2 separate regions of the Homo sapiens genome follow, and region 1 is linked to region 2. The links come from fine-mapping of genetic effects on gene expression. A gene starts in region 2. The other region holds a variant in brackets. All regions are shown on one strand. Distances are between the middles of the regions.

The links. PIP is the estimated chance that this variant, and not a neighbour inherited with it, causes the effect.
Region 1: its variant is the best candidate, but not a certain one, in a credible set for the expression of ESRRB in nasal epithelium (TOPMed, PIP 0.89).

What each region holds. Positions count from the first base shown.
Region 1 is chr14:76,270,593-76,275,966 of GRCh38, forward strand. All of the region lies in intron 2 of LOC105370575 (a long non-coding RNA gene), which reads right to left. Among named protein-coding and RNA genes, the nearest start is that of ESRRB, 100 kb to the right of the region's middle. The variant A/G (reference allele first, on the strand shown) is at 2,939.
Region 2 is chr14:76,374,005-76,379,378 of GRCh38, forward strand. ESRRB (estrogen related receptor beta) reads left to right here and starts at 2,133. Exons shown (of 7, transcript NM_001379180.1): 1 at 2,133-2,447. The coding sequence starts at 2,398.

The sequences.
Region 1 (5,374 bases), 100 kb before region 2:
TGCAATTTGAGAAATTGCAATTTCTTTGAGAAATCCATTTTGGAAGTATGTGTGGGTGACGATTGTTATAAATAGCTACATATACAAAGACTGGAGCTGATCTAATATACCCAGAGCAGAGAACAGAGGCACTGAAATATTTTCTGCAGCAGCAAAGCAGGAGGGACTTAGGTTAATGGGTGCGTGCTAGGATCTCCAAACCAGTGGCAAAACCCGTGTTGTCTATTGCATCTGCCACCATGGGTGGGTAGGCATGGAGGGGGGACTGGGTGGGGGAGGATCCTGGGAAAGGGTGCCTTCTCATGGAGGAACCTCAGCCCTCAAGGAATTGAAATAAGAGAGAGACAAAGAAATGAGCTCCTACTCTTGTCACTCAGATGTCGCTCTAAAGCATCTTTACTCTGGATTTATGTTCCTCGGTGCCTGTATAACCCTGCAAGGCCACGGCATTACAGAAAATCGCCAGCAGTTTCAGAAACACCAGTGTGAGTCCAGTTACTGCTTCTCTCTGATCTTTAGTATATGTGCTGCTGAAGTGAGCCCATCTCTGATCTTTAAAATGATCTCAGATCTCTAATATGAAGGGGGGTCTCAATGCCTAGACCTGCCCACCATCACCCCTCACTGGCTGGGAAAGGCTGGGGTGTGCAGAATACAGGTGACCTGCCCCTGGGAGGTCCATGCTCCATGGTCCAGATGGGGCTGAGGATGCTTCACCCCAGGGCAATGTTAGCAGAGTGGCAGCCCATGCTTTGGCTTAGTATGGCATTCTGCATCAATGCATGTGCACGCACATGCTCACATGTGTGCACACTCTTACAGGGAAGTTAATAGAGATCTACAGCCCTCGTTACCATTTGCTTTCATAAATAAATATATTAAATTGGGAAGCCAGATTTATTTCTGGCAACAGCTTGCAGGCGACACCTCCCCCTCTTATTCACAGTTCCTGAAGCGAGCCCAGCCTCTCCCACCCCACCCCCAGGCGTGACTTTCTCTCTTAAAATTCTATTTTTAATTTGTTGTGATGAATGAGTGACACCTCTGACAGCCGATTCGCGGAGATTAATAGAAACGACACAATATTTACGTCGGCGCTACGAACAATTATCCTGCCATCTATCTCTGAGATTATCTTCCTGATTGAAAACTACTCATCCGTGTAATCGGAATTATTTGGAATTAGAAGGGAATTTATAGCCCCCCTAGAGCACGCTCTCTCCCCTCGAGTCTACACCTCGGTCTCCATCTTTCTCTTGTCTCTCCTCTGGGCCTCTGGCTTTCTCTTCCATCCTGGTGATGGGCAGAGAAAAATCTTTTTCTCCTGGAGGGGGCCACTGGTCACTCAGGACAGTGGGCATCTCTTTAGGGTGGCCTGGGACTCCATGATATGGATCTAGAAGTAGTGGTTTGTGGGAAGGAGGATCTTCGTGGTGTCATAAGAATTAGGGGTCAGCGAGGCCAGCTCCTGAGCTCAAGATAGATGAATATGATCTGAAGAAAAGGGTTTAATACAAAGGTGGAGAAGAAAGGTGACTTTGGAAAGCACTTGGTGTCAGACGGTGACAACTGTAAGAAATCTAAAGGAGCAGGATGGGATTGCAATGATGGTGTTAAGGTTGCTCTATTTCTGTTATGACTGTCTTAGTTGGCTCAGGCTGCCATAACAAATACTATAGACTAGGGGGCTTAAATACATTTCTCTACAGTGCTGGAGGCTGGGAGTCGGAGATCAGAGTGCTAACTTCGTTGGATTCTGGGGAGGGCCTCCTCCTCCTGGCTTGCACATGGCTGCTCTCTCATGTCCTCACCTGGGAGAGAGAAAGAGAGAGAGAGACAGACAGACAGACACACAGAGAGAGACAGAGAGACATACAGAGACATACAGAGAGAGAGGCAGAGGGAGAGAGGGGTAGAGAGAGGGACAGAAAGAGAGAGACAGAGAGAGAGAGGAAGAGAGAGGAAGAGAGAGAGTTAGAGACACATACACAGAGAGAGAGGGAGTGAGACAGAGAGAAAGAGAGAGAGTCAGAGACACATAGAGAGGGAGAGAGAGGGAGTGAAACAGAGAGAGAGAAAGAGAGAGGGAGAGAGACAGACAGAGAGAAATAGAGACAGAGAGACACAGAGAGACAGAGACACAGAGAGACATATAGAGAGACATACAGAGAGACAGAGAGACACACAGAAAGAGGCAGAGAGAGGGGGGAGGGGAGAGAGAGAGAGGGACAGAGAGAGGAAGAGAGAGAGAGACAGAGAAAGAGATAGGGAGTGAGACAGAGAGAAAGAGAGAGAGAGGGAGAGAGAGATAGAGAGAGGGAGTGGACAGAGAGAGAAACAGAAAGGCAGAGAGAGAGGGAGAGAGAGATAAGGGAGGGAAAGAGACAGAGAGAGTAAGAGAAAGAGACAGACAGAGAGGGAGACAGAGAGAGAGGGAGTGAGACAGAGAGGAAGAGAGAGAGAAGGGACACACACCCACACACATGCACACACAGAGAGAGTGTGCTCTTGTATCTCTTCTTCTAAGGGCACTAATCCCATCAGGAAGGCTCTACCCTCATGAAGACACCATCTCCAAATATCATCCTTCTGGGGCTTAGGGTTCCAACACAAGAATTCTGGGGGGATAAACATGTAGTCTATCGCAGACATAATGATGCAAAGAGCTGGAGAGGGTGAGTCAGGCAGGCTAGAGGCTGGACCCCATCAAGGCTCACATTTGGGTTGTAAGGATGGGGAGGCGAGGCTGAGAAACAGCATGTGCAGCTCTGGAGAAGCCCGAGAGCCTGTTTCTCACATTGGGGAGGCTGGAGAGTGGGGGTCAGAGTAAGAATGAATGGAGACACTAGGAGTGCATGCTCTGTTTTCGGTTCTCTGCCTGGTCCCTGCCTGTTAGCCTGGTGGATTCAAGGTTGGGCCCTGAGTCAGACAGACTTCA[A/G]TTGACTCCCTGTTCTGCTACTCCAAAGCTGTGTGACCCCAGGCAAGTTTCTTAACCTCTCTGAGCTTCCATTTTTTTTGTCAGTAAATTACAATTTATAATCCTCCTTGTTGGAGTGTGCACTATCTGTATATTGAGGGTAGCAATAGTACCTACTTTACAAGGATGTGTGTAGATTAAATGAGATCATGCAAGTAGGGTACTTTGTGCAGTTTCCACTACATAGGAGGGACTCAATATATGTAGATGCTACAGATGAGATCAACCTAAACCCTGGGCCTCTTTAGGAGACAAAGACCTGGGCTCCTGGAACAGCCCTGGCCTGCCAGGTTCCTTTCCCCACCTTTCGCATCACACATCCTGATGACCTGTCTGCCTGCATCTCCTCCTGCTTCCAGCCCCACTTCCCCCTCTCTCTTTGTGGTACTGGAATATTTTCTGCAGTAGCAAACCAGGCTGGGACTTAGTTTAGTGGGTGCATGCCAGGATCTCAAATCACCTTTGTTATTTCTCCCCTCCTGTAAATACTTGTAATTGCAAAGATGTATTGAACATGCACTCTTCCCTGGCATGTTTCCAAGTTCTTTACTGGAATTCATGTATTTAACCCACACACTATCCCTGGAGGCTAATTGCTATTAATTATTAACATTCCCATTTTACAGATGGGGAAACTGAGGCACTGGGAGGTGAGATAACTTGCCAAAGTCACATGACTGGTGTGGTCAGCAGCCTCTAAGCTGCCCTTAAGGTTCTTGCCTCTGGTATTCACATCCACATGCAGTTCCCGCTCCCTGTGTGTGGGCTGTGCCTAGTGACTTGCTTCTAATGGATAGAATAGATCAAAGTGCGGCATGTCACTTCTGAGATTAGGGCAAAAGCCCGTGACATTTGTCTTGCTCATACTCTCTCTCCCTAGCTCCTTTAGATTGTTTGCTCTGGTGAAGGGACCTACCATGTCAGTTGTCCTCTGGAGAGGCCTCAAGGAACTGAGGACAGCCTCCCATCAGCAGCCCATGAGGAACTGAATCCTGCCACCAACCATGTGAGTGAGTTTGGAAGTCTGAGATGACTGCAACCCTGGGCCATACATTGGCTGTAGCCTTGTGAGAGATGCTAAACCAGAGGACCCAGCTCAGCTAGTCCCAGATTCCCGGAGCCACAGAAACTGTGGCTCCTAAAGGGGCCCAGGGTTTAGGTTGATCTCATCTGTAGCATCTCTGTATATTGAGTCCCTCCTATGTAGTGGAAACTGCACAAAGTACCCTACTTGCATGATCTCACTTAATCCACATACATCCTTGTAAAGTAGGTACTATTGCTACCCTCAATATACAGATTGTGCACACTCCAACAAGGAGTCTTGTCTTAAGCTGCTGGGTTTGGGATAATTTCTTATGCAGCAATAGATAACCAGTGCAACAAGTAATAGCCCAGCCAGGATTTAGACCTAGGCAGTTGGACTCCAGTGCCTGTGCTCTTGGCCATGTTGCTATATGGTGGATGGGGAGGCCTTTGGGATTGAACCACTCAGGTTCCCAAGTCATATTTGAAAGAGACAAGTGAGCTTGCATGGCTTTTTCAGACAGATTTAGGATGAGATTAAAGAAAGTAGTGTCTTGGTCAAGAGAATTTTTGTTGTTGTTATTTGTTTTTTTTTTTTTTTTTTTTTTTTTTTTGAGGTGGAGTCTCGCTCTGTCGCCCAGGCTGGAGTACAGTGGTGCGATCTCGGCTCACTGCAACCTCTGCCTCCCGGATTCAAGCGGTTCTTCTGCCTCAGCCTCCCAAGTAGCTGGGATTATAGGTGCCCGCCACCACACCTGGCTAATTTATTTATTTAAGTAGAGATGAGGTTTCACCATGTTGGCCAGGCTGGTCTCAAACTCCTAACCTCCAGTGATCCAAGTGATCCACCCGCCTTGGCCTCCCAAAGTGCTGAGATTACAGGCCTTGGTCAATAGAGATTAGTAAATACCATTTGGAAAATGTCACTTCTCCTTTGGGATTAACTTAGCCCTGTCCAAGAGAAACATGAGTATGTTCTTTGGGTCTAGAGGAGCTTTATTCTTTAGGTGGCTGGTAGGTGGAGAGAGAGCTCTTCTTTCATAAGAAATGTGGTGTCATCAGGGGAGTCTTGGGCCCAGAATAGATAACAGTAATCCCCAGTAGTGTTCTCAAGAAATGCTTCCAAGTCAAGGTAGCCCCACGTGGTATATAACATGGCCCTTCCTCAGTGGCTGGAAGGACTTTGCTTCCAACAGGATCATAATCTTCGTGCTACCTCACTAACATTGGAAACAAATGGAGCCAATCTGGATTTATTCATGTGCTCTGTAAACAGTGGAATTCTGCTATGGCTCTGAGGAAATGGGGACATCATAAATTTGTCATTAGGACATTATTCCTTCTTTTTAATAAATAACTTTCTTTAGTTTT
Region 2 (5,374 bases):
AAAAACGGTGCACCCACACAGAGTAAGGAGTCAAGGGGCCCCAGACAACCCATCACTGCCTCACCTTCTTCCTGGGCAGCGGCCTGTCACTCAGCAGGCTGTGGCACCCCACTCCAAACTCCTACAGGTTAACCATTCATTCAGCAAAATCTTCATCAAGCAACTGTTATGTATCAGGCAACTTTAGATGCTAGAGATTCTCTGGTGAACAAAAAGAGACATGGTCCCTACTCCCATGGAGCTTACAGTCTAGTGAGGGAAGGGTGGAGGAGGGAATTATCACTCATGCCAGTACACAGACAATTGCAAACTGTGATAAACTACCCAAAGCAAAGGAACCACAGAAGATTCTGGCACTATATGGAAGGTGGGGCCTTCTAGGTGGCAGATGTAAAGACTGGGGCCCAGAGGGAAAGCAGCAGGGGCTGTGGAGAGGAACAGAGGGACCTGCAGGAAGCTGTCATAGGATGCCTTCCTTGGAGGCCAAGGACTGGGGCCTTTTTCCTAATTGCAACAACGGGACATTGGATGTGCATTTTACAAATCGCTCCCTGGCTGCTGTGTGCCTGGAGAATGGATTTCAGCAGGGCAGAAAGGATGCCGAAAAACCAGTCACTGAGGTCCTGGTGAGAGATGATGGTCATATAGAAGCCAGGCTCAAGGGAAGCATCCCTGCACCCCTCTTTCTGTCTCTGATGAAGTACCTATGTGATTTTTAAAAATCGGGGGCTGCTGGGGGGCTACTGACAGAGGAGACATCTTCATCCATCTCTCTGTGAGATGCCTTCCTGAGCCTTGCGCCCAGAGAATCCCACTTGTTCCTCCACTTCAGCACATATGAAAAATCTCAGCTCTGTTTCCCAACCTGCACGAGCACATTTATCCAAGTCAAAAATCATCTGCGATCCTTCTGCCCACTCTCCCAGCCCCTGCCCAGGCGGCTGGCCCCTCCTGGGGTTTCTCACAACCCTCCCTGCCTTTATTCCTGAAGTGCTTGAACATTGCCTGCAGTTACACTCCATTTAGACATTATTTTGATGATAAAATTATGTCTTCCCCCCTACTGCTCATTGTCTTCTGCAGAATATAGGAGAATAAGGTGGTGGTGTCTCCTGAGGGCTTTTCCCCCCTTTTAAATAATTCTATACCTACCCCCCTCCCCACACTCATTTGAATCATCAAATTGATTATTATCCCTGTGGCTGGTGCATCTCAAAAGATGAAAAACCCAGAAGCAGGGCTGGGGCATGACTTACAGCTCATTTTGGTACAGTGGCATCCCATAATATTCGGGTTCACTGAGGGAGCAGCGGACGGGGATGCAGGTGCGTTTGTAGCTGGGGATTCAGGTGTGTATTTCAAAGTGTGTACTTGTGCCTTGGAGTGGATGTGGCGGGTAAGTTGATCATTTTCACCACGATTGTATTTTCCTAAGCAGACAGGAATTTATTTGCTCATGTCTGTGTCCTGGGTACATTTCAGAGAGCTGCCAATGACTAGAGCATCACTTCATACATTGAGAGAACGTTTTATAGATGCGCACCCTGCATCTAGCCATATGAGAGTGGTGCAGAACTGACTGGCCCAGGTGATGAGAACTGGGAAGGGAATCTGTTTCTCTCCTGCCTTCTTGCTGTGCCTCACCTGCTGGCCTGACCCTTTGCACTTTTGCGCACACAGCGCAGGGTTTGAGGCTGCCTCTTCTCTTTGGTGCGTGGGTGGAGAAATGTGACTCATTTTTAATTTGGAAAACAGATCCATTCCAGAAAGGCTGAGAGGTGAGTTTGCTAGACCTGCCAGTTAAAAGATGGGATAGGGGTGGCCCGGGGGGTATGTAAGCAATAAATCTCCCCCCACCCCAGACCCACCTGGCGGTTGGACATTCCCCCCCACCCCCCTTTAACTGCGAGAAGGCAGGCCTTAGGGCTCTAACACCCAGTACTCCTACTGCTCAGGAGGTGGGGACCTCGCGCGCTGAGCGTCTCATTCCATGAAGTCTCTCTGTCTCACCCCCTCCCCCCACCCCAGCTTGATTCTGTCACTTTAAGTCCAGCCCCTGAGAGATAGCCAATAGGAGCCAAACTATACATCAGTCTCCCAGCCTTAAAGCTACAGTAGGGTTAGTGGGCTCCAAGTCTCTTGTGCCCCAGCCTCCTCCACGGCTTCGCATCCCCTCTGCCCGCTCTCTCCGGAGCGTGCGGATGAGTGGAGAGCTGGGCTGTGCGCGCACGGCTCTCTGCCTCCCTCTCCCCCGCCGCGGCCGCCTCCTCCCACTCTGCGTTCTCGCGCTCACTGTGCCCTGCCCGGGCTCGCACCTTGCCCGTGCCCTTCACTCGCTCTTCCGCGTGATTTCCCCGCCGTCTTTCTCTACCAACTGGGAATGCTAAAACGGGACTGATGGACGTGTCCGAACTCTGCATCCCGGACCCCCTCGGCTACCACAACCAGTAGGTGCCCTGCTTCTCGGTCTGTCTGTCCTTCTGCCCGTCTGGCAGTCTCTGTCCTGGGGATCGCAGTTCCTTTTCTGCACATTCTTGTGTAAAAGTGGAAGGGACTTCGGGGGGGCACTTGGGGGACGAAGGAGGGGAAAAGCCGCACACTTCTGGGTTTCTTTCTAGGGCATAAACCCTCCTCTAACTTTTTCCCGCACCCCCTTTTACAAATCCACACTTTCAGGCAAGAGTGGCGCTTTCTCATGCACTTTCTCCCTTTCTCTCTCCTCTCTGATCTTGCTCCGGGGTGAGAAAATATTTGAGTTTTTGTGGAATGGAGCAAGAAGGGAGGCAGAAGCCCAGAACAGGTGCAGGGATGTGGTTGCAAGGATGTCCTGTCCCGTCAGAGAAAGCCTTTCCCGCGGGCGCTTTGTTTTATTATTTCCATCCTGGGGACCAAAAATGATCCCGGCAAGAGAGAGAAAATCGAACGTGCCGCGGCGGTTTGGAAACTGCAGGCGGCCAGTGCCGCTCTCGCCTCGCGGTCTCCGTGGGGCGCCCCGAGGGTGCGCACGTGGCGCGGCGGATCCAGGGCGCCCGGGGGATGCGGGCCCAGCGCTGCGTCGTAGGCAAAGTTCGTTCTCGGCTTTGGGGGAGGCTGTGACCAGCGGAACAGAAGGGCACCATTTCCCTGCTCCGAGGCGGCTTTGCGCTCGCGGTGCCAGAACCTGGGGTTATCCGAGCGGCGTGGGCGCGGGCGGCAGCCGGCGCCGCGAGAAGCGACTCTCAGAAACCGCGGGTCTCCAGCCCCGGGGCAGCGCGCCAAGAGCGCAGAGTGGGAAAGTGAACTGATCGCCTAAGCAGCGGGTGGTCAACCCGCGTGTCATGTCCGGGCTCTCGGGGATCCCACTCTATCCACCTACGGTTTCCCTCCCGACACCCTCCACGGTCGCCGCTCCACCTGCTCGGGTACCTGCCCGGGTCTCCCCTTGGGCGCTGCGCACCCCACGGCGCCCCCGGCGGGTGTCCCGGAGGCAGGTTGTGTGCGCGTGCAAAGTGGTCCCTCGGAAGGCTTAATAATAATAATACATAAAACTCTAGGTTCTTACGGACAGCTTTCCTGCTTAACTTTGTGCTCGTCTTCCTCTTTTTTTTCTGACGCAAACTAAATTCTCCAAGTCAGCGTTTCTCCAGTTCCACCGTGCTTTCATTTGTGTACCACTCGCTCTCCCCCTCCCCCCAAGAACCACGACTACATCTCTAAAATAAATACTCTGGATCATGTGGGGTCCCAGGAAGTACCTAACCCCTCTCCTGGCTGCATGGAGCACCTCCACCACGGTGCACCCCGCTTGAGAGAGAGGGCAGCTGTCCACAGCATGGCTTGTGTTGTTGACCAGACTGTTCCTGCTTCTAGTTTGGGGATTTTCCCCACTCCACCCTGGGGCAGAGGGCCTTTTAGATGCCACCAGAATGTCGGCAGAAGGCGCTGGTCTGGGAGAGGAATCCTTAATAATAATGGATTCCGATTTCCATCAGCTTGAAAAGTGGCTTTCATTCCTTTTAAAGGTTAGATTCTAGCTGGGGTGGGGATGGGGTGGGAGCACCTGAGGTTAGTGAGGCTGTGGACAGTATTTGGTGCTTGTGGAGCATTTCCTTACATAAAATGATCAAGTATGACAAATATTGGATATTTAAATTATTAAGGCTCCCTCTCTCCAGAGGTGACTTCTTTAGTTGAGCACGAAATACTTATGTATTTGTCCCTGGCTCAAGTCATAGTCAATAAATATGAAAATTCGTATGAAGGAAGTACATTCTTTGATTATGCTTACCAGGAAAGCAAGGAGTGAGATGGAGGCTTTAACAGCTGGGTAATTCATCGAGTTGACGGCAGCCCTGACTGGAGTTTGAGGAGAAATATGGGCAAAAAGGCAATGTCAGGGAAGCAGCAGAAGGAAGTCAGGGAGCTGAGGTCCTGGGGGTCTGGGAAAGGTTTGAGATAGAAATCATTTATAAACTAAGCCTGACAGAGGTTTAGATCCCCAACCCTTTCCGGTTTTTTTTTGCAAAGAATTAGCTTGTCCCTCCATGGGGCACAGGAAAAGCCAAAAATATACCTGCTGTCTCCACCGAGGAATTGAGCACCCCTGTCAGATGTCATTTCTCAAAGCCCAGGACCCACTGGGCAGCAGCCCAGGCATTGATGAGCTGGCCTCTTATACATATATGTGCCGCCTAGGGAGGGTCTGCATGTGCTGTGGCGCAGAGGGGCATCATTTCAAGGACGAGCTTGTGGAGGTCTGGGGCTGGTGTCTGGGGAGACATCTTTCTGACCTCTACCCCATGGCTTTGTGACACAGCTTTAGAGCCATGGGTAGTAAAGTAACAGAGCAGGGGACTGGATTCTTTGGTTTGGTAGAAGGATAGTAGGACAAAGCCATTCATTATAGTGCCGGCATTTCCCAGGGAACATACAGTAAGTGGGTTCGTGTATGCTCTGCTCACTGTTTTGACCCCTGTGGATTGGCTGACATTCCCAGACTTGAGAAAACCCAAGGGCACAGGGACTAGAGTTGAGGGAGGAGGAACTCTCTGGTCCTCCCTTTTGCTTCTAACACATAGAGAGCATTTGTTAATGCTGTAGAATCATTCTCACTTTCCCAGGTGAGAAATGAACACACACAGAGAGAAACATACGTACCTTCCTACCTTGCTCTCCTTCATTTTCATTTTCCTGTAGCCAATCCTGTAGGTGACTCCATTACCCATTCTAATCAATATTTTATGTACATATATAATCACCCAGAGTGGGAGGCAGCGTGCTCGCCTGTGTGTGCCTGTGTACAAATGGGTCCATGACTGGACCAGCTGGAGACCCACGGCAAACAGTCCAGAGAGCAAGGGGGGCTATCTTCCCCACCGTCCGATGACCACTTTGC